Homo sapiens: one gene and its partners. The protein of the gene in region 7 interacts with the protein of the main gene of each other region in a biochemical or structural test. Each region holds a gene or a part of one and is shown on either strand. Other genes may lie near its edges. The genes, in order: YWHAQ, ERCC2, DICER1, PITX2, USP15, PLAAT4 and TRIM25.

Evidence for each region.
Region 1: the proteins of TRIM25 (region 7) and YWHAQ form a complex in vitro, tested with the Homo sapiens proteins (one study listed by BioGRID).
Region 2: the proteins of TRIM25 (region 7) and ERCC2 form a complex in vitro, tested with the Homo sapiens proteins (one study listed by BioGRID).
Region 3: the proteins of TRIM25 (region 7) and DICER1 form a complex in vitro, tested with the Homo sapiens proteins (one study listed by BioGRID).
Region 4: the proteins of TRIM25 (region 7) and PITX2 form a complex in vitro, tested with the Homo sapiens proteins (one study listed by BioGRID).
Region 5: of the proteins of TRIM25 (region 7) and USP15, one has a biochemical effect on the other in vitro, tested with the Homo sapiens proteins (one study listed by BioGRID).
Region 6: the proteins of TRIM25 (region 7) and PLAAT4 form a complex in vitro, tested with the Homo sapiens proteins (one study listed by BioGRID).

The regions. Positions count from the first base shown.
Region 1 is NC_000002.12:9,585,749-9,589,937, forward strand, and holds part of YWHAQ (14-3-3 protein theta), read right to left. Parts: intron 2,581-4,189; coding exon 2,417-2,580; intron 1,762-2,416; coding exon 1,666-1,761; intron 1-1,665. UniProt on the Homo sapiens protein: Adapter protein implicated in the regulation of a large spectrum of both general and specialized signaling pathways. Binds to a large number of partners, usually by recognition of a phosphoserine or phosphothreonine motif.
Region 2 is NC_000019.10:45,364,074-45,368,262, forward strand, and holds part of ERCC2 (general transcription and DNA repair factor IIH helicase subunit XPD), read right to left. Parts: intron 1,086-4,189; coding exon 969-1,085; intron 882-968; coding exon 765-881; intron 475-764; coding exon 351-474; intron 259-350; coding exon 162-258; intron 47-161; coding exon 1-46. UniProt on the Homo sapiens protein: ATP-dependent 5'-3' DNA helicase. Component of the general transcription and DNA repair factor IIH (TFIIH) core complex, not absolutely essential for minimal transcription in vitro.
Region 3 is NC_000014.9:95,087,940-95,091,529, forward strand, and holds part of DICER1 (endoribonuclease Dicer), read right to left. Parts: intron 3,427-3,590; coding exon 3,264-3,426; intron 3,171-3,263; coding exon 3,095-3,170; intron 2,725-3,094; coding exon 2,559-2,724; 3' UTR 1-2,558. UniProt on the Homo sapiens protein: Double-stranded RNA (dsRNA) endoribonuclease playing a central role in short dsRNA-mediated post-transcriptional gene silencing.
Region 4 is NC_000004.12:110,616,801-110,620,644, forward strand, and holds the end of PITX2 (pituitary homeobox 2), read right to left. Parts: intron 1,889-3,844; coding exon 1,325-1,888; 3' UTR 623-1,324; downstream 1-622. UniProt on the Homo sapiens protein: May play a role in myoblast differentiation. When unphosphorylated, associates with an ELAVL1-containing complex, which stabilizes cyclin mRNA and ensuring cell proliferation.
Region 5 is NC_000012.12:62,392,628-62,396,816, reverse strand, and holds part of USP15 (ubiquitin carboxyl-terminal hydrolase 15), read right to left. Parts: intron 3,765-4,189; coding exon 3,615-3,764; intron 523-3,614; coding exon 419-522; intron 1-418. UniProt on the Homo sapiens protein: Hydrolase that removes conjugated ubiquitin from target proteins and regulates various pathways such as the TGF-beta receptor signaling, NF-kappa-B and RNF41/NRDP1-PRKN pathways.
Region 6 is NC_000011.10:63,539,526-63,543,714, reverse strand, and holds part of PLAAT4 (phospholipase A and acyltransferase 4), read right to left. Parts: coding exon 4,091-4,189; intron 1-4,090. UniProt on the Homo sapiens protein: Exhibits both phospholipase A1/2 and acyltransferase activities. Shows phospholipase A1 (PLA1) and A2 (PLA2), catalyzing the calcium-independent release of fatty acids from the sn-1 or sn-2 position of glycerophospholipids.
Region 7 is NC_000017.11:56,900,194-56,904,382, forward strand, and holds part of TRIM25 (E3 ubiquitin/ISG15 ligase TRIM25), read right to left. Parts: coding exon 4,062-4,189; intron 1,386-4,061; coding exon 1,226-1,385; intron 1-1,225.

The DNA of each region.
Region 1 (4,189 bases), on a different chromosome or scaffold from region 7:
TTCAAAAACAAAATTGGCCAGGTACGGGGTGGTGTGTGCCTACAGTCCTAACTACTCAGGAGGCTGAGGCAGGAGGACTGCTTGAATCCAGGAGGTTGAGGCTGGAGTGATCCATGATTATGACACTGCACTCCAGCCTAGGCAACAGGGTGAGATCCTTTCTCAAAAAAAAAAAAAAAAAAGAGAAACTTTTTTAAAAAGGCACTCTACTTTCAGAATAAGCAAAGTGATAGTCTCTATTCCCAGCAGCCCAATGCTCTTCTTGAAAGCACTACTGCATTATTATTACAGACTAATAAAGCAAAACATTTTCACAGGGAGGAAAAAGCCACAATCATGGTTAACAATTTTCAAGTGTGTGAAGGGCTAAACTATAGGAAAAGCAGACTTACTTTGTGTTTCTCCAAGAATTAAATAGAAGTGGGTGATGGAAGCTACAGGGAAGCAATGTGTGCATGTATAGACAGGGTTCTTGAATTAGACAGAATGTTAAAACTAAGTGGATCTTCCAGGATCTCTCTGATTTTAGGATAGGAAGATGAAGTGAAGAAGAGAAGTCAGTATTTATTGACTATAATTGCACTTTATTAGACCAACAGCAAGACATTAGTGTTAATTTCAGAAAAGCCAGAATCTTACATAATCCTTAGATTATTATGAAGATACTAAATAAAAACAAACAAAACAAAATCCCCCAAAGACCTGTCTCCATAATAGAGATAACAAAACAAAACCGATTAAAAGATAGTTAGCTCCAAGGTATACATCTGGGAAGAGGTATAACTGCCTAATTTGCTCTTCCTCTGTAGAACTATTTGCTGATCATCTTCCATTGTCCCCTCACAACCACAGGCACTTCTCATGGCTAGAAATGCAGGGTCTTCGTTCCCCTTTCAGTGGATTCATAATTACCCTATTCAGCAAAATTGAATAGACATGGTGCTAATATTTAAAAAATCCTATCTAGTAAATGATAAAGCACCAAACTAGGGGGCTGGGAGGACGAGATCTATATTAAAAGATTTGTTCCCTTCTTTTTCCTTCTGTGAAGTCTAAGATTTTACCTATCAAATTTACTTGAACCTACAAAAGAATGTTAAAGTAAAGCTTAAGCTGTACTTTTTCTTGATTACTTCCTTTATCAATTGCCTATCTAAGAAGCAGGGAGAAAAAGACAAACAAAACAGAAGCTTTTGCCTAGAAGCAGAGAAGGAGTAAGTTTAGGTATAGGTTTACTCCCTAAATGCTTGTAGAACATCATGCACAATTCACAAAGTAAACTTTTATTAGAACAAGGTACTTCCTGTGATTTTAAGAAAGCGTAGATATTTAGATAGTCCCTAACTGGCTATAGCTGATTTGCCCCAAAATATTGAAACTTGATAAGCTCTTTATTAACATAATTTATCAACATCTTCATCCCAATGAAATAGTAATATTAATATTGAGTTCCTATCATGTTAGAACCTTCTCAGGAAGGTCTGATAAAATGCCTATTCAACTTGAAAACCTGCCTACAAAATAATGTTCGTCCCATAAAATACTAACACGTATCTCATACTTTCAGCTCGTATGTATCTTCCCTAAAAGACACGAAGTCCAAAATAAAATATAAATACTTTTGTTTCTGAAAAGAAAATAAAATTAAAAGAGTAAACAACTCACTGTTAGGTTGTCTCTAAGCAACTGCATGATGAGGGTGCTGTCTTTGTATGAGTCTTCATTCAGTGTATCAAGTTCAGCAATGGCCTCATCAAAAGCCTGATAAATATTAATATCCATGGTAAAATATGTGCATTGACGAAAACTGGTTATTCTACAATTACAAACCATTTTTACAAAATAAGTGAACACCCACCTTATGTTCTACCATCAACAAACTCAACAGAACCATTCTCTCACACTCCCAGTTTAAGAACTTATGAGTATGACTGGAATTTTATAAAACTATACACTTAGTAAACAAGCATGTCTTGGTTCTTTCACAGGACAACGGAACAGCAGCAATGCTTAACAGACTTCTTTCCAGTTAAGTAGTACTTATCTCTACAGGGTCCTCTTTATTCTCTCGTTTTGAGCCACTTTGAGGAATGTGGCTGATGCACAGCTATTCTAGTAACCAAACCTGGCAGGCATGACTTTCTAATCTTTTATGTTTCCTTCTTAACATCATTTATCCTTCTTTGATTACTCTGCTCAGTATGCTCTGTAGGCACATCACTGCTTATAATCATAGGGTAGAGTAAGGTGTCAGGGGTAGGAGTAGGTAATCATGATGGGAAGAAAAAGAGGAGATTTCAAAATAAATATAGTAGAAATCATCCCTGGGTATCCAAGTAAAATACCTATAAATTAACATACCTGGTATCTCAAATAACTGTAGCTAAAGTACGTATTTCCTGGACACACATCTTACCGTTTTAGCCAGCGTGCAGGCAAGCTCTGGGTTATTAAGAATCTCATAGTAAAATACAGAAAAGTTAAGAGCAAGCCCCAGGCGGATTGGGTGTGTGGGTTGCATCTCTTTCTTGCTTATATCAAATGCCTCTTGGTAAGCTCCTTGGGAATTATCTATCGTTTCTGTGAAGAGCGAAAAATAAGAAGTGCAATATTAAAAATAACCATCCAGTACACAGTACATTAACAACTTGAACATATGCTACTAGCTCTTGGTAGAACCAAGATTTTTTCTCTGTATGGGTCTTTTAAAATCATGGTAGCTAACAAAAAACATTATCGTGGCCAGGCGCGGTGGCTCACGCCTATAATCCCAGCACTTTGGGAGGCCGAGGTGGGTGGATCACTTGAGATCAGGAGTTCAAGACCAGTCTAGCCAACATGGCGAAACCCCATCTCTACTAAAAATACAAAAATTAGCCAGGCGTGATGGCGGGCATCTGTAATCCCAGCTACTCAGGAGGCTGAGGCATGAGAATCGCTTGAACCTGGGAGGCTGAGGTTGCAGTGAGCCGACATCACACCACTGCACTCCAGCTTGGGCAACAGAACGATACTCTGTGTCAAAAACAAACAAACAAAAACAATATTGTGTACTGGGTATTTAAGAACTTGTTTATGGCCAGGTGCAGTGGCTCATGCCTCTAATCCCAACACTTTGGGAAGGTGAGGCAGGGGGATCACTTGAACCTGAAGAGTTCAAGACCAGCCTGGGCAACACAGGGAGATCTTATCCCTGTCTCTACAAAAAATAATAATAATAAAAAATAGCTAGGCATGGTAGTGCGTGCCTGTAGCTCTAGCTACTTGGGAGGCTGAGGTGGGAGGACCCCTTGAGCCCAGGAGGTTGAAGCTGCAGTGAGCCAAGATCATGCTGCTGCACTCCCAACCTCAGTGACAGTTTGTCTCAAACAAACAAACAAAACAAAAAACCAGTTTAGAATGTTGCTTACATATAAACAGCTTAATGGAAAAAAAACATGAGATATTATAGTAAATCAGACTTTTTTCCATACCTAGGCTAAAACTATTTTCTTATTTTATGTCTTTTAATTCTATTACTTGGAAATGCAGCAATTAAAAATAATTTGACTGGAATAATTTACAGTGGCTCACGCCTGTAATCCTAACACTTTGGGAGGCTGAGGCAGGCAGATCACCTGAGGTTGGAGGTACAAGACCAGCCTTACCAACATGGAGAAACCCCGTCTCTACTAATAATACAAAAATTAGATGGGAGTGGTGATGCATGCCTGTAATCCCAGCTACTTGGGAGGCTAGGCACAAGCCTCACTTGAACCCGGGAGGCGGAGCTTACGGTGAGCCAAGATCGCGCCATTGCACTTCAACCTGGGCAACAAGAGCAAAACTCCATTCAAAATTAATAATAATAATAATAATTTGACTGGAATACCCTTTCCCTAAATAATGTAAACTTTACAAAGATCATCAACACCAAAATCTCTATTTTTCTGATTTGCAGAAATACTGATTCTTAGTATCAAGTGGTATTATTTGAAAGGCAATATAAAAGTTTCAATAAATAGGACAAAATCTGCTCTGACCAGAGTTTGATTACTAGCCTAATTAAAATGTTACTCCCCCTTCAAAAAATGTTCAGTATTACCAACACTAATCTGATTATACCCATGTTTTGAAAAGGGTAGTTTTCTGTATGAGGCCACTGGCCTATTACAGCTTTAGAGATACTGACGTAAGAGAATTAAGCTAT
Region 2 (4,189 bases), on a different chromosome or scaffold from region 7:
ACGCCGGTACTCGTCCCGCAGGCGCTGCTCGTCTGTCTCTTTGATCCTGCGGAGAGATGAGCTGGGGCTGGGAGGGGGCTGGCAACCCTGGGGACAAGTCAGACAGGGGCCAGGGTCCCAGGGGCAGGGCGGGCACCACCGCCAGACGTCCCCGGCCCCACCTGAGCACCGTCTTCTGCAGGGTCTCCAGGTTGCCCTGGCACCGGTCAAGGGTCCGGCGGGTGAGGTTGACGCTCATGGAGTCGATGCAGACGTTGTCTGGAGAAGGGGGAGAGAGCCGGCTCAGGCAGGCCTGCAGGGGCCTCACTCAGAGGGGCTGGCATCCCTTTGGCCCCTGGCGCCCCCCTCACCAATGTTGTGGGCCTCGTCGAAGACCACGACGGCCTTGCGGGCCAGTTCCTTGGACACCAGGTCTGCAATCTTGGGGTCCAGGAGGTAGTGGTAGCTATAAACCACCACATTGGCATGCAGGATCTGGGGGGCCGGGGAGCAGGGTTACCAGGGCCCTGCCACCCCAACCCCTACCCCTACCCCTGGCCACACTGGCCCGTCACTCCCACACAGGCCTGCACAGGCAGACACAGGCCAGGCAGAAGTATGAGCAGATGGATAGAGACAGACCAACAGATACGGGCACCCACCAACAGGGAGATGCAGACAGGCAGACTCACAGCAAGCAACAGACAGACATGGGCAGACAGGAGACGGGCGGGCAGCCCACACCCTCACACTCGCCCCTCTGCCCATCCCACCAGCCTCCTCACTGAGTATCGAGCAAGGAAGTATGGGCACCAGCCCTGGCGCCGCCCCAGGGCCTTCAGGTCATCCAGGTTGTAGATGCCAGCGGGGAGGGGCACCTCACGCCCATGGGCATCAAATTCCTGGGACAAGAGTGCCAGGGGTCAGGGAGGCTGCCTGCCCCAGGCTACCTGTCCTGCCTCCCTCCCTCAGCCCTGCCCTCCAGTAACCTCATAGAATCGGCAGTGGGGCAGGCTGGTGTCATGCTGGTACTGCGCCCGCACATAGGAGGCTGTGAGGCTGTGGCATTTCCCATCGACGTCCTTCCCAAAGCGCAGGGGTGTCACCTGGGGGTGTGGGGCATCTTAGCACCCAGACAGGGTGGAAACCCAACCACTCTTCAAACCCTGGTCTCCACACCTCCCAGCTGGCTGGGGTTTTGGACAACTTGAACCTCAGTCTGTTGCATTATTAGTTAAGACGCGTGGGAACTTAATGCAGGGATACAAGAGTAGTAAAATTGGGCTGGGCGCGGTGGCTCACGCCTGTAATCCCAGCACTTTGTGAGGCTGAGGTGGGCAGATCACGAGGTCAGGAGTTCGAGACCAGCCTGGCCAACATGGTGAAACCCTGTCTCCACTAAAAATACATTAGCCAGGCGTGGTGGCACATGCCTGTAATCCCAGTTACTCGGGAGGCTGAGGCAGGAGAATCGCTTGTATCCGGGAGGTGGAGGTTGCAGTGAGCAGAGATCGTGCCATAGCACTCCAGCCTGGGCGACAGAGTGAGACACCATCTCAAAAAAATAAGTAAAAATAAAAATACAAAAATGAGCCAGGTGTGGTGGTGCACACCTGGAATCCCAGCTACTCGGGAGGCTGAGGCAGGAGAATCCCTTGAACCCAGAAGGCAGAGGTTGCAGTGAGCCGAGATCATGCCACTGTACTCCACCCTGGGCCACGGAGCCAGACTCCCTCTCAAAAAAAAAAAGAGTAGCAAAATTGTTACATTCTTACAACTACAAGTTATACATACATATTTTTGGAGACAAGTCCCTCTGCTACTCAGGCTGGAATGCAGTGGCCCAATCACGGCTCACTACATCCTTGACCTCCCAGGCTCAAGTGATCCTTCCCCCACTCAGCCTCCCGAGTAGCTGCGGCCACAGGTGTGCACCACCATGCCCGGCTAATTTTTGTCTTCTTAGTTGAGATGAGGTCTTGCTATGTTGCCCAGGCTGGTCTCAAACTCCTGGTCTCAAGCAATCCTCCCACCTCAGCCTCCCAAAGTGCTGGGATTACAGGCTGAGCCACTGCGCCCAGCCAGCCAAAACTAATATTTTATTTTTTGAGACGGAGTCTTGCTCTGTTGCCCAGGCTGGAGTGCAATGGCACGATCTTGGCTCACCACAACCTCCGCCTCCCAGGTTCAAGCGATTCTCCTGTCTCAGCCTCCCGAGTAGCTGGGATTACAGACATGTGCCACCACACCCGGCTAATTTTGTCTTTTTAGTAGAGACAGGGTTTCTCCATGTTGATCAAGCTGGTCTCGAACTCCTGATCTCAGGTGATCCACCCGCCTCGGCCTCCCAAAGTGCTGGGATTATAGGTGTGAGCCACCGTGCCCAGCCCAAAACTAATATTTTAAAACAATAAGCCTGAAAAATCTTTAGCATATAGGTTGAAGATAACTACTTCATCCTTGGAAATGCCAAAACGCATGGAACCTTGGCAGGGCCTAAGAATCAAAGGAGGTTCCACACAGTCTGGGACTCCCCTTACCCCTGACCTGCTCTGTACCCTCTAAGGCACCATCACAGCCTAAGGCTTTTTCTGAAGAACAAATCCTTTTCCTACGCCAAAAGGAAAGCTCCAAGGCAGCCAGCCCTTCCTTCTCCATTTCCCCTTTCATCAGTCACCGAGGCCTGTGCTCTTTGTCATCCACTAGATGTATTATTTCTCACATATTCTTACAAATAATGTGATATAATATATAGTCTGTGGGCCCAGTGTGGGAGTTTGAGACCAGCCCGGCCAACATGATGAAACCCCATCTCTACTAAAAATACAAAAAACTAGCAGGGCGTGGTGGTGGGTGCCTGTAATCCCAGCTACTCAGGAAGCTGAGGCAGAAGAATCACTTGAACCTCGGAGGTGGAGGTTGTGGTGAACCGAGATCACGCCACTGCACTCCAGCCTGGGCAACAAGAGTGAAACTCCATTTCAAAAATAATAATAATAAATAAGGCTGGGCACGATGGCTCATGCCTGTAATCCCAGCACTTTGGGAGGCTGAGGCGGGAGGATCACAAGGTCGGGAGTTAGAGACCAGCCTAACCAACATGGTGAAACACCGTCTCTACTAAAAACACACAAATTAGCCGGGTGTAGTGGGGCACCTGTAATCCTAGCTACTCAGGAGGCTGAGGCAGGAGAATTGCTTGAACCCGGGAGGCGGAGCTTGTAGTAAGCCAAGATCACTCCCCTGCACTCCAGGCTGGGTGACAGAGTGAGACTCCGTCTCAAAAACAAAACAAAACAAAAATATATATATATATACACACACACACACACACACACACACACACACATATAAAAACATATATACACACACATATATATGTAAGTATAATATATACACATATATACATTCTGTGGGTTACCACATGTAAAGTATTCAGAACAGTGCCTGGCACACAGTGAGTACAATTTTTTTTTTTTTTTGAGACGGAGTTTCACTCTTGTTGCCCAGGCTGGAGTGCAGTGGCGCGATCTCGGCTCACTGCAACCTCCCCCTCGGGAGTTCGAGCAATTCTCCTGTCTCAGCCTCCCAAGTAGCTGGGATTACAGGCATGTGCCCAGCTAATTTTTCAATTTTTTTTCAGTAGAGACGGGGTTTCTCCATATTGGCCAGGCTGGTCTCAAACTCCCGACCTCAGGTGTCCACCCGCCTCGGCCTCCCAAAGTGCTGGGATTATAGTCGTGAGTCACCATGCCCAGCCAAGTACAATGATTTTATAGCATAATTTAATGATAACTAATATTGTATTTGTCATATATCATTATGCATATAAATATCATGACAATTTCTTTTTTTTTTTTTTTAAGACAGAGTCTCACTCTGTCACCCAGGCTGGAATGCAGTGGCATGACCTCAGCTCACTGCAACCTCTGCCTCCTGGGTACAAGCGATTGGCATTACCGACGTGTACACCACCACCCCCGGCTAATTTTTGTATTTTTAGTAGAAATGGGGTTTCGCCGTGTTGGCCAGGATGGTCTCGAACTCCTGACCTCAAATGATCTGCCCACCTCAGACTCCCAAAGTGCTGGGACTACAAGCGTGAACCACTGCACCTGGCCTATCATGAGAATTTCTAACATTCTTTTAGCTCTTTGTACATGCTAAGGGCATCGGCTGCAACATTTCACCCAATTTTATCATCAGCAAC
Region 3 (3,590 bases), on a different chromosome or scaffold from region 7:
TGACAGATGCAAAACATTTCAACAAGCTAAACACAGGAAAACTTTACAGCATTAAAAATCAGCAGCACAAAAGCGTTCATAACCATTTCATATGTCTAACTCGTACTTTTTTATTTTTTAACTCAGTAACCAGGGGATCACAGAATGCTTCAAACTGTGAGTCAAATTAAAATCTACTATTTTTCTCCAACAAAAAGTGAAACGGCTGAAGTTTGCTGTTGATAAAACATTTGAATGGTAGAAGGAAATTTGAACCCCTGAGAATGTATGACCTAATCATGTCTAAGTTTGAACATCTTAGTATTAACAAAAAAATACTCTTCTTAAGGTTACAAATATATTGAGGCATTTTTCTCCCACTGGGAATCATAACTGTGAAAACAATCTGATTTTGGTGCCAGGAATCAAGAGAATCCCGTAACACTGGGATCAATGTATTAGACACAATGCAAAGCCCTAAGCTCCTGGCATCAGGTAGTTTATAAATATTAAGAGATTTGTGATTAAACTTGATCACAAATCACCCTCAGAATAAAATTCACATCCAGCCTTGTTAACTGCACACTTTTACAGTTATATAATTCAAGAATTGCTTTGTTTTAACTGGTCATATCTTACATTAAGGTTTTTTAAAAAATCAAATAGACATCTAAGGTTCCAAATCGGAATTAAATATTTTTAAAACAAGTCACCTAATTTGCTCAAAAACTCGTTTAATAATTTAGATCTCAATTTAAGTTTAAGATTGGAGACAACAAAAAACACTGGAGAAGCTTAATACCCCCCTCACTCAGGGTTCCTTAGAAAGCAGAGCTGACAGTTTTCTGTCGGTGCACTCGCACAGAGGCATTTCTCTGTGGGTGGATGATGCAGATAAAGCAGGAAGGACAGTATTCAAATGTCACTTACATATAAATGCAGCATTCCACGAAGCATCAAGTTCAGAATCATGTGCTGGGAAATATGAGACACCTCTGCTCAGCTTTCTTAAACTTCAAGCATAATTAACGGGGCAAATTGCAGCAAACCTCTACTGGTATGTTGATGGGAGTGCAAGACTGACCCACAGCTTTTAAAAAGGTAAATTAAGAGGTATTATAGTTACAGTGCAAAAAAAAAAAAATTAAAATTTCAAGCATAATACATAAACATAGCACCAAACAGGGGAAAAATGCATGCAAAAGAAAAGAAGAACTGAGGTATTTAAGTGAAGAGTGCCTACAAGTCTAATTAAAGAAACTTAGGCAAATGCCTAAAGAAGTTTTTTTTTTTTTCCTTTTCCAAAGATGGAAATAATGAGCTAGTTTATCTAAATTAATGACCTAAATCACAGATGTATCAAAATTACGGCAGTTTATCGCAAACGTTAAACTTTCACGGCATTAACAGCACAGCTTTGGTAGGTGAAATATGCATGCAACATTATGAAAAGTATAGTAAGAAATTTATGTGAGGAGACTAAGGGTAAAGGTGCTGTGTTTTGCTTCTTAAATAAGTAACCAATCAATTATAAAATCTGCAGCATATTTTAGGTGTGATATGTCTAAGGTTTATTTTGTTAGAGCAACAGCCTAGAAGGCAAAATTATTTGCCATAAACATTTCCATCAGTGGGAACTACCTGGCAGGAGGACTTTAGTAAAATGGGGTGTTTAGCCAAAGATCATTTTTATGATAAAAAATATCCGTAGACTACATATTCTGGTTTTTAAAATGTCTTCAGTATACATATGACAGAAATTTTAGTATGATCCTGTAATAAGTTACAACTATACTAGTGAGTTGTAAGTATCACGCTGTCTCAACGTCTAATGCATAATAAAATGAAAGGAATGTAAAACAGTTTGTTCCAAAAAGATCAGAGATTAAAGACTATCCATGAAGGTTTCACTTTTAAGGCAAGAACCCTTTTTTATGCAAGACTATGTGGCATCAGAAAACTAAAATGTGATTCACCAACATGCCAGCCAATGTTCATTAAAAATCTGTCCCTTACTATCAGGTGCAACAGCGACCGGGAACATCACCTTACACAGTATAACGTGGAAAGAAAAGACAACATTGGCGCACTTCTCCTCTCGAAAACCTTATCTTTCTATTCAGCTTATCAACTACTGCAGGACTGGCACTACTGCACACACGGAGAGATGGAGAAGAATCTACATCATCCTAGGGACTGCTGGAGGTTTAAGCTCCATGGCCTTCTAACACTAAGCAAAGCTGACATAAACTCAAAAAAAAAAAAACAAAACCTGTCAATTATTTTGAGCACTTGCTAAATGTCATCATTAAAGCACTCTTGTGATTTAAACAAAGCAGAAGTGAGGAAAGAAGATAAGATTGTGTTTGCGCAAAAAACTAAAACTACAATTAGTTCCAAAATTTTATACATATGTTAAATGTTTTATTCTGTTATCTATCCTGTTATCAACCAAACTTTAAATTCTGCCTTCAATTCATTCCACTCACTAACAACTTTAAGTCTTCCTTTCCGATTTAAATAATTTTCCCCTTAATTTTTTTTGTTTTGTTTCTTGTTTTGAATTTTAAAAAGCGGTTTCAGCTATTGGGAACCTGAGGTTGATTAGCTTTGAGGCTTCGGAGGGCTCTTCTTGCTGCTGCAGATTTGGCAATCCTGTAACTTCGACCAACACCTTTAAATTTCCCCTTTCCTACTACTTCCACAGTGACTCTGACCTTCCCGTCGTAAGTTCTCTCAGCCGGGCTGTAAAAAATCCAAACAGCTTGAATTAGAAGTCAGAAGTATTTATTATCATTGTCAATCAGCATTTAGTGTGCACTCTCAGGCCAGGAGTCCCATGTATAAGCTGACACCACACAAAGGAAACACGCGTTACGACTTACTGCAATTGCATACCCCCGACAGACAGGGCTGCCGTCTAGTCTTTATTACAGCATTATTTCATAAAAACAGAAGGAAAAAAGAGAAGTCAATCAGATTACAAACAGAAATCTGACAACAGCACACCACAGTGTAAATATTTTTCAGAATCATTAGTTTACAATATCTTTGTGAACTTTTCCCCTTTGATGTTTTTAAGTTAATGTTTTTTCCATGTACATTTTTTGCTTACCTAAATTTGGCAGTTTCTGGTTCCATTTCAAGCAATTCTCGCACAGGGGAACGGGGTACATTTGCAGAAAACTTTTCTGCAATCAAAATGAAAGAATAATATGAATAATATCTCTGAAGTTGTTTTTAATTTTGTGGGTTTTTTTCTTTCTAAAGGGAGCCAACAATACCTATTAGTGGCCGCATCATGGGATAGTACACCTGCCAGACTGTCTCCAGTGACATCCCACTATCCATGTAAATGGCACCAGCAAGCGACTCAAAAATATCCCCCATGGCCTTTGGAACTTCAATATCCTCTTCTTTCTCTTCATCCTCCTCAGATCTCCTAAGCTATTACAGAGGGAAAAGTGACTTGTAAGCAAAAAGGCCACTTTTACAGGCAGTCCACAGATGTAGTTTCTTTTCTTGGATATATGACTTTTGTTACTTCTTTAGTAAGGGGGGAAATACCATTTATGGTATGCCTACTATATTGTAATAGTAAAACAAATGTT
Region 4 (3,844 bases), on a different chromosome or scaffold from region 7:
GAGAAACTGAAGGGCTGTAGTTATTAGAAATCATCTTTGTTTCTTTTAATGTCTCCAAAGGATTTGGAAATAGTAATGCAATATAACATGAAGGATCTCTCTACTTAAGCCTGAAGATAAACGTGGAAGCCTAAATATTTTGAACTGGAGATGTTTCCCTGTAAATTTATTATAGATGTATTCCTCCTGAGAGAAATGCATATAAACTATACATGTATACATGCACAAATATTTCTCCAGAACAATTTGCTAGAGGTGTAGGTTTCCCCGTAAAGGAGTAAACTTGAGAGTCATTTTAAGCTGATGGACTTGCTAAATTTCTTTCTTCTTTTTTCTTTTTCATATTATTTGCTAGCCATAATGGAATCCTCTAGGTTTAAGCCAAAGAAAAATTGGAGAGACAAAATTAGATTTTGTAGCCCTTTTCCCCCCCGGGAATGCCTTTTTTTTTCTTTTTAGTTTCTGATGAATGGCTATCATTTATTTCTACCAAATTTAAATAAGGACTGCTGCCTTGTATGTTTAACTAGGCAGGCAGAGGGAACTGGTTTGTTTAGGAAGCAGTGACTGAGATGTCCTGGCCAAGTTAGTGACAGAGGAGGGGAGAAAGAATCCAGACCAATTTGTATGCAGTATATTTTACTCCCATGAAATAAAACACATTTGTTTCATATTTGCTGAAAAGTAAAACAATAATATTGTACGAAATGTTATACACAGGGTAGGTTGTACATAGCAGTTTCAGAAACATCATTGCATCCACCAGAGAAACTATTCTAAAACTGATATTCACACATTTTTTATAATAATAATAATATGTTAGAAACATACAGTGTGGCATTTAGTATATACACTCCCTTGCTCGCAAGCGAAAAATCCTAATCGCTTCTGTATAACATGCTTTATTTTAAAGCCTAACCTTTAAAAACACTGTTGTGATATTACTAACAACTGCTTTTATAAAATTAATTTGACATTTCGATATATATACATCCTTTCAGTCATTTAAATGTTAACAATGCTAAACTTAAAAAATAACAAGCTTATAGTAATGTTAAAATGTCATATCCAGTCAAACATTTGTTTGTGTATGTGTCCTTGCAACTGTTAGAAATACTTGTAGTGAAAGATGTCAGACACTGAGGACATCCCTTTGAAATCAAAGGAGCTCTCTCTTTGATTCAGTGGTTTCCTTTTCTCTATATAGCTTCTCTTTCTCTCCCTTTCTTTAGTGCCCACGACCTTCTAGCATAATTCCCAGTCTTTCAAGGGCGGAGTTGCCCCATCCGGCAAGGTCCTAGGATCCCGGCGCTGTGGGTGCGGCTCACACGGGCCGGTCCACTGCATACTGGCAAGCACTCAGGTTGGAGGCCGGGTTCTGCACGCTGGCGTAGCCGAAGCTGGAGTGCTGCTTTGCTTTCAGTCTCAGGCTGGCCAGGCTCGAGTTACACGTGTCCCTATAAACATACGGAGGAGTCGGCGGCGCGTAAGGACAGGCAGGCGTCGGCACCGCGGAATTCAGCGACGGGCTACTCAGGTTGTTCAAGTTATTCAGGCTGTTGAGACTGGAGCCCGGGACGCCTGTCACTGCTGAGGGCACCATGCTGGACGACATGCTCATGGACGAGATAGAGTTGGGTGGGGAAAACATGCTCTGTGATGACAGGGGGTTGACGTTCATAGAGTTGAAGAAGGGGAAGCTCTTGGTGGATAGGGAGGCGGATGTAAGGCCCTTGGCGGCCCAGTTGTTGTAGGAATAGCCTGGGTACATGTCGTCGTAGGGCTGCATGAGCCCATTGAACTGCGGCCCGAAGCCATTCTTGCATAGCTCGGCCTGCTGGTTGCGCTCCCTCTTTCTCCATTTGGCCCGACGATTCTTGAACCAAACCTGGGGGCGGTTGGGGCAAGGGAGCAAACAGATGCCACAGTGCAGATTACTAAAACTTCCATCGGAGGCCAACCCCCGCCTTCCCCCGACACACACGCTAGCGCACTCACACACCCTGGCCTCGCTTCACTGCACCGCCCTGCACACCAAGATACCAGGGCCAGCTTTCAGTTACTGGCCCGGGTCTCCACCAAGCGCAGGAGACCTGGTCTGCTCTGGCCTGCGAGCTGGGACTCGGAGCTACGCCACAAACCTCAGCCGAACGCATGGAGACCTGCGGACGGTTTGATCACTCAGCCAGGCGTTTCTCCAGGTCCAAAAACACTTAATGTAAAACAAACGCGGGGCAGCAGGCTTTTCCAACCCTTCCCGGGGCACCTTGCAAACTTGCTTCCATTCCAAAGCCACAGACCCACGGATGAGGAGAAGGGGCTGGAAGGGCACTAGAGGATCGCTCTTTCTCCCACGCAATTCCTCCCTTCCTTCCCTGACCTCCACTGTCGTCCCCCACCCCCTGGTACGTGCTCCCTTAACAGGGACTAGGCCGCCAACACTCTTTCTCGCCTAGCAAAACAACCAAATAAAGAGCAAAAGACCACCTCTTCGTCAGCTCGTTAACTCCAGGAGCTTGGCATATTAAACTCCGGGAACCCGGAAAGGGTAGTTTTGGAGATTCCCCCTTCTTTCGCTCTGCCTCTTCTTTACCCTAAGCCCACCACAGGCCTGTCCGCGCGCCAGGCCCAGCCGGGTCGTTTGGCTTTGCAGGCGGCCACCCAGGCCGGCCGGCTTCCACCCGTGTCCGGTGGCCCAGCCGCAACCCCGATCCCAATCCACATCGGGCCTCCCTGTCGCCCCAGACGGCGGCTTTTGTGTATTGGAGAGAGGCCTGGCCTGAGATATCCGAGCTGACACCAGTGATGTTTCACATTACACATCTCCGCCGGGCCCAGCCGTGTAATCCGCTTTTTCTCTTTTTCCTTTCATTCTTGATTTCCTTTTTATCCCCCTTCCTCTTTGCACCCGACTGCTATAAAAAGCACGCCTCACTCCCACTTGGCTCGACAAGCAGCCGCCCTGGAAGGAGAGGCAGCTGCAAGGAGAGCCCAGCGCCGCGGCTACAAAGCACTAGGGTGGAGCTGCGGAATAGCGGGCGGGGTGGGAGGGCGTTTTCGAAGGATCCCAGAAAACCCATAGACTCTGTCTTTAATTACTTGCCATTTCTACCCTAGGCCATCTAAACTTTGCTCAGGCGAGAAGAGTACGTGAGAGGCCCGTTCCCTTGATGTGCAAGAGAGCTAATGAAAGACTGACCTTGCTCAAAACCACGCCGCCCAGGACCCAGCTCTGGCTCTGGACAGTTAAACTAAAACCATTTTCAACTTCTTCCCGGCCTTTTATCCACCAGCATAGCCTCATGCCTTGCACAAATGCCACCCAGAGAGTGTCTTCATTCCCTCTGATTTGGGAGAGCATTTTGGTCTTTATTCTTTTTATCGTTGTTTTCTTCTTTTTGTTTGCTCTGCTCTAACCGGGGGCTTTATTTTTTCTACCCAGAGCACTTAATTTTTTTTTTTTAACAGCAAAGCCTCTGGATGCCGCTTGATTTGCTTGATTCTGTTTTCTGCTTCCAGAATCCTAACAAATTTGGAATCTTCCACCGACCAGCATAAACCAGGACGTTGCTATTGGGTTATTTATTTGAGCTCATTTTTGCCAATCCATAAAGTACAGATTTGCTACAAAGTTAAGGTAAGCCCTTTTTACAAAACTATGATTATAATTTAGAAGAGGGGGTGTGAGTTTCAATTTCCAGAGTTCAACTCCTGAGAGAAGATAAATAAACCAAGCAGAAAAGTCTTTCTTCTTTTTTTCTTTCTCCTTCTAAGAGGACTAGTAGTTGTGTATTAAAACTTTGCTCCCGGAGATCACAAAACTAGGAAATAGGGTGTGTGGGAG
Region 5 (4,189 bases), on a different chromosome or scaffold from region 7:
CAACTGACTAAATGGACACAAAGCAACACAGATAAGTCTTCATAAGTGTCGAGACCTAGTGATATCTACAGCACAGTACCAATTATATAAATGAATAAATATTAATGATTTACAAGAGTATATGCATCAAACATGTTAGAAAGCAAAGGGGAAGGAGAACGTGGAGGGAAATGCACTCTAAATGGGACAACATTCCCTACTAGGCCTTGAACTGAGGAGTATGATGAACTCAATTCTCTATACCCTATGTGAAAAAAAAAAGGTTCAAAAGCTGACTCATTCATTAATCAATACTGAACTACTATATGCAAGACACATCTGATATTTTATCCTTAAGAAGTAATAAATATCTTAAAGAAAAAAGTCTGGAGTTCTTCAAACACCATGATTTGGGTAAAAAGGCAAACTGTCAACTTACAGTGTCCTCCTCCCATCCCTCCATAGTGGTTGGAAACAGCAATCAGATTATAGCGGCAAGGACCTGCATTTGGATTAATTAAGAATTCCGACATATCCAAGTCACTGTTTAAAAAAGAAACCAAGTTAATTTTTATGTTGTCCCTAAATGCAATGAATTCTATTCCCTTCTGCCATTGTTGTTTGACATACATATATATATCTATATCTATCCATCTATATATATCTATCTATATATATATATATCTCACTAAGGAAATTATCATGAGTCAAATAACTTACAAAACAAATCATACATGTACCTCTGAGATATTAATGTTTTGGCAAACATTTGTTTATGGGTTGAAAATTTTAAAATGCTTCATTGAGTATACTGAAGAGATATCTGCACTCCCCATGTTTGTCGCAGCAATGGTCACAACAGCTAACATTTGGAAACAACCAAATCTTGTTGATTTGACGAAACTATGTGTTGCAATGTTGATGGAACTAAGTGTCTATCAACAGATAAATGGCTAAAGAAAATCTGGTACATATACACAATGAAGTACTATTCAGCTATAAAAAGGAATGAGATCCTGCCATTTCCAACAACATGGATGGAACTGGAGATTATGTTAAATCAAATAAGCCAGGCACAGAAAGACAAACATCCCATGTTCTCATTTGTGGGATCTAAAAATAAAAAAAAATTGAGCTCATAGACAGACAGAGTAGAAGGATGATTACTAGAGGATGACAAGTGTGGTGGGAAGGTAGGGGAGATGTAAGGTGGGGATGGTTAACGGGTTAAAAAAAAAAACGAATGAATAAAACATACTATTTGATCACACAACAGGGTGACTATAGTCAATAATAACTTAATTATACATTTAAAAATAACTAAGAGTGTGACTGGATTATAACACAAACGATAAACGCTTGAGAGGATGGATACCCCATTCTCCATAATGTGACTATTTCACACTCCATCAAAACATCTCATGTACCCCACAAATATATACACCTACTATGTACCCACAAAAATAAAAAAATAAAATAAAATAAAAATGTGGAATGTTGTCATTCAGATAAACGTTTTCATGCTAACACATTTAACTCTCAGTATACCAGGAAAAACAGTCATCACTATTGACCATCTGGGTCCAGTAGATCTTTATTTTACAGTCAATTTTAGAAAGTAATTTATGGGCAGGGTCAGAGATTAAAAAAGAGGAAGTGATTTATATGAAGAAAAATACAGGAATAGTGAAAACTTCCTTAGAAGTTTTAAAAAATATTAATATATCAAACCTTAATTTTTATTCTACATTTGCTGTCTTTGATGACCTATATACCCGAAATGGGCAACATCCTTTGAATGTAACTGACTAATCAAAATCTATCATTCAAGAACCTGGAAAACGACTTCTTGTAAATAGCTTATTATTATTTCTGGTTGTTCTTCTTGTATTTGCATCATTAAAAAGCAATAATGATTCTAAATTTTAAATACATCTCTGATAGATTCTAGTTTGTCATTACTTCTGATTCTTTTTTTTTTTTTTTGAGAGGGAGTCTCGCTCTGTCGCCAGGCAGCCTGGAGTGCAGTGGCGCGATCTCAGCTCACTGAAATCTCCGCCTCCTGGGTTCAAGCGATTCCCCTGCCTTAGCCTCCCGAGTAGCTGGGACTACAGGCGCGCACAACCATGCCCGGCTAATGTTTTTGAATTTTGGTAGAGATGGGGTTTCACCACGTTGGCTAGGATAGTCTTGCTCTCCTGACCTTGTGATCCACCCACCTCGGCCTCCCAAAGTGCTGGGATTACAGGCGTGAGCCACTGTGCCCAGCCCTGATTCTTTTTCTTATACTTACATTGCCAAATGCTATATTCTTGAAAACTTATGGCTCACTATTTTGTTAAAGAGAAAATGATCTTTTTTTCACTCAATAATTACAAATAATTTTAAATTTTAAATTTATAGCCACCAATTAGAATGAGTAATCCAGTGAATATTTTGTTTTATGTAATCTATTTCCTTCTAGTTACCTTTATAGATACACCTGCCTTTAGCAATTGTCTACTTACTAACTGTATCAAGTACATTTTGGTGTACAAATATCACAGGATATGAAATAATACCGCTGAAAGTTCTTTTTGCAAAATGGGATAGTACCAAGTACTTGTACAAAATATTGTGTGATGAAGTCCTTCTGCTGAATAACTAAGTGACGGGGAATACAATGTTCCCTTTTTGTCATTCTGAATTCTCAACTGTTAAAAGCAGGGGAAGAAAAAAAGAGAGATAAAGTGTGAAGATGTATACAGACTTCTTTGTATCTTTTTACAGACAAGATCAGGGTACGTTCAAGGTGGTATGGCCATAGATATATCTTTTTACAAATATGATGTCATATAATGGCAATAGGAAAACTGAAGGATAATGCAATAGGGATGATTTATTTCACTACTGTGTTATCCTTCTAAGCAATTCCATTGTTGTTTTATTTTAGTCTTTTTGAAAACAGCATATTTAGGGCTGGGCACAGTGGCTCATGCCTGTAATCCCAGCACTTTGGGAGGCCAAGGCGGGTGGATCACTTGAGGTCAGGAGTTCGAGACCAGCCTGGTCAATATGGTGAAACCTCGTCTGTACTAAAAATTAGCCGGGCATGATGGCGGGTGGCTATAATCCCAGTTACTTGGAAGGCTGAGGCAGGAGAATCACCTGAATCCAGGAGGTGGAGGTTGCAGTGAGCCGAGATTGCACCATTGCACTCCAGCCTGGGCAACAGAGTGAGACCCTGTCTCAAAAAACAAACAAAAGAAACACCAAAAAACCCCAACATATTTAGGAGTAAGTGATGAGTAATGATGAAGTAATTCCTAGGATAAACAAAATCACTAAGTACCATAAAGTATCTTAGATTTATAAATGAGACCAATTAACCCATAGGTAATATAACACAGAAGGATTTTTATTGTTTTTATTTTTTTAAAGTATATTTTCTCTTTGATCTTTGGAAAATCTCTAAGAAAAAATAAAAATTTTGAAACACTGATCCTTATAAACTGTTAGAACTACTCAAAAACAAACTTGAAAGCTGAAATTGGGTCCAATGGCACCTGATGTTTACTAAAGGATAATAACAAAAAGCATCAAATAAGTTTGAAAGAAGAGTTGCCCAATGCTTATAAAGTACAATTAAAGCTTACTTGATAGGAAAATCAACTAAGGTATCCAACTTGTCTCTCATGTATCGACTGTAAGAAAATCGCTTGAGATGTACTACAAGTACTGGAGGCAGGGACCATAAATCCAATTTCTTTGTGGCTTGCTGATGTTCTTTACAATTCGGACAATACCTAAGAATAAACAGAAGTATTTAACACTTGATAGAGGTACAAACAACCCCCATTAATGAAAATAATAAACAAAAATGTTTGGAAAGTTCTACATTTATTCAGTGGGCAATTATAGTATGCCTAATATGTACCAGGTTGAAAGCAACTCTTATTATTTTTATTTTCAAGACATTTTCCAAATAGGTTAAACCATTACAAATTAATATACAAATAAATACTTAAAGACATAATGAGGGCTAGATTATTTCTCTTTTAGTATGCAAAAAAGACATAGGTCACAAATCTGTGCTGGAAGACAGGTATTAGAAAATCTCAAATCTGGGCTCTAATGGAATAACACCACAAAATATATCACTACATTTTTCCTAAAAAGCTTCTCTCAAAATGATTACATAGCTAAAATTTCTTGGAAAAAAGGTAACTAA
Region 6 (4,189 bases), on a different chromosome or scaffold from region 7:
AAATGGATAGTACCTAATGCACACAATAATTAGGTGTGTTACCTCTTTTGCCCCGTTTCTAATCTCAAGGCTGATGTTTGCATTTAGAACCCTCTTAAGAAAATCCTGTTGGCTGGGCGCAGTGGCTCATGCCTGTAATCCCAGCACTTTGGGAGGCCTAAACAGGTGGACCACTTGAGCTCAGGAGTTCGAGACCAGCCTGGACAACATGGCGAGACCTGTCTCTACAAAAAATACAAAAATTAGCTGCGCGTGGTGGCACACGCCTATCATCTCGTCTCAGCTATTCAGAAGGCTGATGTGGGAGGATCACCTGGCCTGAACTCGGGGAGGTCAAGACTGCAGTGAGCCTGATCCCTTGCATGTGCAGTTCCCAATGGGGTTTGCACTCCTATGAGAATCTAATGCTACTACTGATCTGACAAGAGGCGGAGCTCAGGCAGAATGCTCACTCACCTGCCTCTCAGCTCACCTATTGTGTGGCCCGATTCCTAACAGGCCACACACAGCCCAGGGTTGGGGACCCCTGCTTTAACTGATGCATTGATTTGATAAAGTATTTTACAAGCCTGATAATGTTATAACCCTATTTATTCAGGTCAGATTTATGCCAACTTTGCTGAGAATATGGAGGGTATAGATGAGTGAACATCAACAAACATAACTTCTACCGTGGTTAAGAATTTTACTTAAGAAAAGTATTGAAGTTCAAATCCAGGTAGTATTACATTTGAAATTTTTATAAGGGTTATTAATTTAATAAAATTCATTATCAGGTTTCCCCTATAAGCTTTCTCCTAGGTTAGTTTTCCACAAGCATTGTTTTACATACACTGTAATCAGGATAACACAAGCTTAGTGTTAGATCTTGTAGGAAACCAAGATTAGAAGCATTAGAAATGTGCAGAATTTAAGAAATTATGTTTTGTGGTAATCTGTGGCCAACGATGATAGAACCTAGTGCAATTGTAAAGTGAAATTCAAGGAGAAGGAATGAGGAGTTAGGCAAGCAGCACACTTGAATATTAGTGAAGGAGAGGAGCTGTGAGTCAGGAATCAGAGAGACCTGCTAAAACCAGACAGATATAAACACCAAAGACGGAAGCCAAATAGGTAGCCAAAAATCCAGATATTTGAGAAGCAGGAAATTTACAGCAACCAAAGAAATAGGGCAAGATAGGCAGGTGAACACACATGATACCTCAATTGACAATCTTCCTCCTACCAAGCCAGACACGTTGTAAATGCTGCTTCCCATTGGAGCCCAGAAAAAAGGAAAGTTTAGGCTTTCTGTGTCCTATGTGTGGAAGCAGGGAATTGGATTGAAGACTTTCATAGTTGTAAAATAAAGGCAAATCCTGAGGAACTCACTGATAGAGATGTGAAATGACAGTACGGAAGAAAACAGAATAACTATATAAATATATTAGTCTAGGGCCACTTAATTTAGAGGAAGAAAAAAAATCACCCCATCCACAGAAATAGTTTGATAAACAGGTCACTAAATAATTAGCATTTATAAAGATTCTTAGTTATCAAGGGCTGCATTGTATTTTATATACTCAGTTTTATAAGGCGATACTTTTAAATAAGCATTTTAATGAAAATGGTTAAACTGAAAATAATTTTGGTCCTTAAAAGGAGTCAGGAGCTTTTATATATAAGGTACATATTTTAAAAGAATACCTCCTTTATAACAGGGTTTTACAGACACTACTGTAATTTATAATCATTGTTTTTTACTTTTGGGTTCACCTAGATCGTATGAGTTGGTATGATACTTCCAGAACAAAATTATTCATAATGTGTTTTTTGTAATTTATGATTTTTAAGTAAGCTTGACTTATAAATTGACATTGTAATTTTGTACATAATTGGATATATGTGCTAAAATTTAACATTTAGATTTATTTAATTGTAGAAAATACAAATGTAAAACTTATACATGGAAAGAACTGTATGCAGTTGACTTTACCATGGAAATTGGAGGGAAACAGTTTTAGATCAATTTTCTTTCAAAATTTTCTTTATTGTAAAGTATGCAAAATATATATTCATACCATTTATTAAATCAGAATGTTTATGCAAAAAAAAAAAAAAGACTGCAGTGAGCTGTAATCACATCACTGTACACCAGCCTGGATGGCAGAGTAAGACACTGTCTCAGAGGAAAAAAAAAAAAAAAAAGGAAAGAGAGAAAAATTGTCTTTAAAAAGCCTCTTTACGGCTGAGCGCGGTGGCTCATGCCTGTAATCCCAGCACTTTGGGAGGCCGAGGCTGGTGGATCACGAGGTCAGGAGATCGAGACTATCCTGGCCAACATGGTGAAACCCCATGTCTACTAAAATACAAAAAACTAGCTGGCTGTGGTGGCATGCGCCTGTAGCCTCAGCTATTCGGGAGGCTGATGCAGGGGAATCGCTTGAAACTGGGAGGCGGAGGTTGCAGTGAGCTGAGATTGCACCACTGTACTCCATCCCGGTGACAGAGCAAGACTCTGTCTTAAAAAAAAAAAAAAAGCCTCTTTACACACTGCAAGTTAGGCACAAAAAGGACCATGTGTCTTCATTGCCATGCTTTGTCTTACAAGGTCCCTGAGGATCATCTGGATTAAGTGGGCTTGATTTACTATTTTCCATCAATTCAGACATTTTTACAATCCTGCCTGGGAGATGATGGCTTGGAGAAAACTGATAAGATGCAAATGTCTTGCCCTGATAGTGATGGGAATGGTTTTTGTCCAGTGACAATGTAAATGCTTGGTGAAAAGAGAACATGAGAAGTTATGTAGTGGCACTGCCCTAGAGGATATGAACTTGCCTGCACCTACCTAATTTGGCAGTCTCATTGTCTCATTTCTGCATTTTTGTTGTTGTTTTTTGAGACAATGTCTTCCTCTGTCTCCTAGGCTGGAGTGCAGTGGCACTGTCTCAGGATCTCGGCTCACTGCAACCTCCGTCTCCCAGGTTCAAGCAATTCTCCTGCCTCAGCCTCCTGAGTAGCTGGGATTACAGATGCCTGCCACCACCCCCAGCTAATTTTTGTATTTTTAATAGAGACGGGGTTTCACCATGTTGGCCAGGCTCGTCTTGAACTCCTGACCTCAAGTGATCCGTCCGCCTTGGCCTCCCAAAGTGCTGGGATTATAGGAGTGAGCCACTGTGCCTGGCCTCTGTGTTCGTTTTTTCCCCTTTCATTGGCTATCCATACATACGTTTCCTTCATTCTGCTTTTAACTGGGTATGTCATATTTCTGCTTCTGTTATTAATGAGTTAAATAAAACATTGGTATTGCTTACTGTGTATTTGTATGAGAATTTTAAAAAAATGTATAAACCTGTGAGAATTGCTCCCAGTAAGGAATCTTAAGTATATAATATCAAGACACCTTGTTGTGTGAAAACATATGAGGCAAAGGATCTGGCACGGAGAAACATTGTTCCTTTTGAGAAACTTTCTTCTTTAAGACCTAAGAAACCTGGCTGGTTTAAGTCGTATGAGATTCTGCATGCCAAGGTAACTGACTTTGAGCTGGAGAGATCCCAATGCTGAAGCAGCCCAGCTTCGCTGCGGGAGGCAACGGTCTCTTCTTCCGTTCTGCCAGGACCTATGGAATGCACTGTGTCTACTTCATGGGACATATGTGTGTGCAATCTCATCAAGCATCCTCTAAGAAGAATGTGTCTCCTAACTCAAGTTTCCCTTGCTTAACTGTCTTTCAGTGGCTCTCATTGACTTATTTTTTTATTTTTTGAGATCAAGTTTTGCTCTTGTTGCCCAGGCTAGAGTGCAATGGCACGATCTCGGCTCACTGCAACCTCTGCCTCCGGGGATCAAGTGATTCTCCTGCCTCAGCCTCCTGAGTAGCTGGGATTACAGGTGTGTGCCACCACACCTGGCTAATTTTGTATTTTTAGTAGAGATGGGGTTTCTCCATGTTGGTCAGTCTGGTCTTGAACTCCTGACCTCAGGTAATCTGCCCACCTCGGCCTCTCAAAGTGCTGGGATTACAGGCATGAGCCACCGTGCCCGGCCCTCTCATTATCCTTTTAACAAATATTTTGAAAATTATATATTCATCAGTCCTTACTTGGAGGAGCCAGATGGATCACGTAGCCATCTCCTATATACAGGGCCCAGTGCTCATAGCCAAGGCGGAAAATCTCAATCAGGTCTCCAGGTTTGGGCT
Region 7 (4,189 bases):
ACAGAGCGAGACTCCGTCTCAAAAAAAAAAAAATTTTTTTTTAATTAGCCGGGCATGATGGTGTGTATCTATAGTCCTAGCTAGTCGGGAGGCTGAGGCAGAGGGATCACTTAATCCCAGGAGTTTGAGGTTACAGTGAACTATAATCACGCCATTGCATTCCGGCCTGGGCGACAGAGCAAGATCCTGAATAAATAAATAAATAAGCCGCAGCCCCTGACCTCACAGAGATCACAACCTAATGAGGGAGATATACGGGGATCCCAAGGAAGAATGCGATACTACCCATGCAAGAGTCCCAAGAGGATGACAAGGACCCTGGGCCCAGTCTGAGGAGTGGGAGCAGTGGCAGGGGAGGCTGGCTATAAATGTAATGTTTTGCTGATCTTTGAAGGGTGAGAGGAGTTAATTAGTGAAGACGGTGGAGTTCAAGCCTTCTGGAGAGTGGGGAAGAGCAAACACAAAGGCCCTGTAGCAGGAAGTTTTGCATATTTGAGGAACTGAATGCAGAGAGATGCACCAGAGGAGAGTGGGGGGCGCCTTGGGGCTGGAGAGAGACCAACAGGGCTTGACCTGGCATCTAGACCAGGGTCAAGGGTTTGGTCTGCATCAGGGAGTAATAGGAAGCCTAGTGAGAGGGCAAAGCAGAATAGGTCCCAGGACATGAGCTCTGCATCATGAAAATCCCTCTCTGGCTGCAGCGGCAGATGCAGAGGGTTTAGGAAGCTGCTACAGTCATGGGGCGACAGGTGATGGCAATGGAGAACAGGCAAGCAGTGCTAGGATCAGCAGACTGAGTCAGGAGATTGAAAGAAGTGAAATTTGGCAATGGATTGGATATGGGGTGATGAAAAGGGGGTGTCAAAGAGGAATTCTAGATTTCTCCCCCAAACGGGCCATTCCCCCACCAAACACAATAACAAGCCCTAGCTTATTCAAAACCCATCCAAGTTGGCCTCAAGATCACAGGCCAAAAGAGCCTATCTGTCCAGAAAGTCCAAGCATTAACATCAAGTCCCCAAAAATGCTTTAGGAAAGATCCTAAAATGTCAGGATGAAGCAGACTCCCCACCAGCCTCCAGACAGAGGGCGGATGTTTCAGGAGCCCTGAAACTCAGGCCCCAGTGCTCGGGATCACGCCCCAATCTCCCATCCCAAAACATTTAGGGGACCCATCGGGTTGCAGGGTTCCACAGGGGGCAGCATAGGGGGCTGCTAAGGTCACCTGAACTGGGGGTGGGCTCCTGGAGCCGCCCGATGCACTGCTTCAGCTCGTTTTTGAGGTCTATGGTGCTCTGGTGGATGCCTTTTATCAGCTTGTGGTTCAGTTCCACCTCGGGGATGTAGACTGGCTTTGTTGAGATTCCTCGCAGTTTTGATGCTTTCTGGAACATGCCAGGGGGTTAGTGCAGGCAGCTCTGGTGAAACGGGGACCTGGGCTCAGTCCTCACCAACCCCAGGAGGCTCTCCCCTATGCCCAAGAGTGCTAAGTCCAATTGGCCTTCTCAAATTACAGGCCAGAGGTCACCAGGAGTTTAAATGACACTTGAAGACACAGTAATCTGGAGCTGGAGGGGACCCCAGAGGTCACTCATCTTACAGATGGGGAAACTGAGGTCTAGACATGGCAGGAACTCCACCAGCTAGGGGCACAGACACAGCTGGGACTGAGATCTTCCGATCCCCCAGGACAATGTTCTTTCCACTTTTCCAGCTAAAGGTGGAAAAGCACAGGAAACTCAGGACCACCCCAATCCTAGGGGAACAGCTCTAATCACACATTCTGGTAACAGACAGGGACATCTCAAGGGATGTGGATTGCAGCCAGGGAATATCTTATGGGAAGGGAGGGTCTTCCTGGAAGTCCCAAACTTTGAGAAAAATAGGGTTGTACAGTATCAAGAAGCCTAGATGTGCACTCAGATCCTTCGAGAGCTCGGGGCAGCTGCTCCAACAGACAGGAATGAACACTTGGGATGAAACTTAACGCCATCCAGACTAGGCACGCATCAGGCCTCAGTGCACAGAGACAAGGTTCCCATTCACTCCTGCACTGTCTCCCCACCCCCTGATCTGAACAAGGAATCTGGGTCTTTCAGGTATAGCTGCAGGTCACTCAATCAATGGGGCACACCACTATATGCCAAGCACTCTGCTATGTGCTGGTCAGATTGGCAGGAGGATGAATGGGGGTAATAAGAGATGGGCTTACAGTCAAAACAGCCATGAAAAAATGCACATCTGAAACAACATCACCCAATGTTACTGTAGAAACAGTGTGGCATGCTTGGGAACACCGATACGGCATGGCAATGGGATCCAAGGCCCTGGAAGGATACGACTCACTAGGCAAGAATGCCCAGCATGGCATCCCACCCACACCCACTGTGTCTGGGGAACAGTGAGTGCATAGGGCATGAGCCAGGGATGGATGATATGAGATGAGACTGCTGGCACAGGCGGGGCCCAGTCACCTAGGACCCTGCAGGCCATGTTAAGGGACATGAGGCCAGAAACAGCAGGGGGCCCATGCTTTAGACAGATACTTTGATACAGTCTGGATGTTTGTCCCCTCCAAATCTCATGTTGGAATGTGATTCCCAGTGTTGGAGGTGGGGCAGGGTGGGAGGTGTTCGTGTCGTGGGGGTGGATTCCCCATGCACCGCTTGGTGCCCTCCCCATGGTAACAGGTGAGTTCTTGCACAAACTGGTTGTTTAACGGAGGCTGGCACTTCCTCCTCTGTCTCTTGTTCCCTCTCTAACCCTGTGACATGCCTGCTCCCAGCTTCACCTTCTGCCATGAGTAAAAGCTTCCTTCCTCACCAAAGGCCTAACTAAAAGCCAAACAGATGCTGGTGCCATGCTTGTACAACCTGTAGAACTGTGAGCCAAATAAACCTCTTTTCTTTATAAATTACTCAGTCTGGTTGGGCGCAGTGGCTCACACCTGTAATCTCAGCACTTTGGGAGGCCGAGGTGGGTGGATCACCTGAGGTCAGGAGTTCGAGACCAGCCTGGCCAACATGGTGAAATCTCGTCTCTACTAAAAATACAAAATTAGCTGGGCATGGTGGCGTGCGCCTGTAATCCCAGCTACTCAGGAGGCTGAGGCAGGAGGATCACTTGAGCCTGGGGGCAGAGGTTTCAGTGAGCAAGATCACACCACTACACTCCAGCCTGAGCAACAAGAGTGAAACTCCATCTCAAAATAAATACATAAAATAAATAAATAACTCAGTCTTAGGTACTCCTTTATAGCAATGCAAAAGGGACTACTAACACACACTTCCAGGAGCTGCTGGAGGAAGGATGGGAGGAAGAGGTGGAGTGTGAGTGGCAGGCAACGTTCTAAGATGGCCCTCAAGCCCCCGACCCCGACTGATGTACATACCCTATAGTATGCCCTCCCCTTCAGTATCGGCAGGACGGTGAATGAAATAGGATATCACTCCTGTGATTAGGTTATGTCATGTGGCAAAGGGGGTGGAATATTGCTGGTGTAATTAGCATCTCAAATCAATTGATTTTGAGTTCATCAAAGGGCAATTATCTGGGGTGGGCCTGACTTAATCAGGTAAAAGACCTTAAAAGAGGGATTGCATCTTTCTAGAGGAGAAATTCTCATGCTGGCCTTGAAGAAGTCAGCTATCAATCTGAGAGACAGCCAGCAGGAAATTGCGGGGGGCCTCAGTCCTACAACCATAAGGAACTAAATTCTGCCAACAACCACATGAGCCTGGAAGACAACCCTGAGCTCCAAAGGAAACAGCCTGGCCATCCCTCGCAGACTGTAGCCTGGTGAGACCCTATGCAGGCCACCCATAAAGCCATGTCCAGATTCCTGAGCCAGAGAAACTCTGAGAGAATAAATATGTGTTTTTTGAAGCCCCTACATTTGTGGTAAGTTGTTGCCCAGCTCAGAAAACTAATACAGCGTGTGTCTCAGGGATGCTTCCAGTGACCTCTTCCAGTCTCCCGCTCCTTGAGGGCCCTATCATCAACAGCATGACATCAGGCAAAAAAAAAAAAAAAACATTCAACAATGCCTTGTGGCGACCTACCTCCAGAAACTCGAACTCATCCCTCTTGGTCAGGCTCTGTTCAATCTCCTCCTTCAAGGTCTGGATCTCACTCTTCTTCTTGAGGAGAATCTGATAAATGGTGTCAAACTTGCTGTTGACCCTCTTCT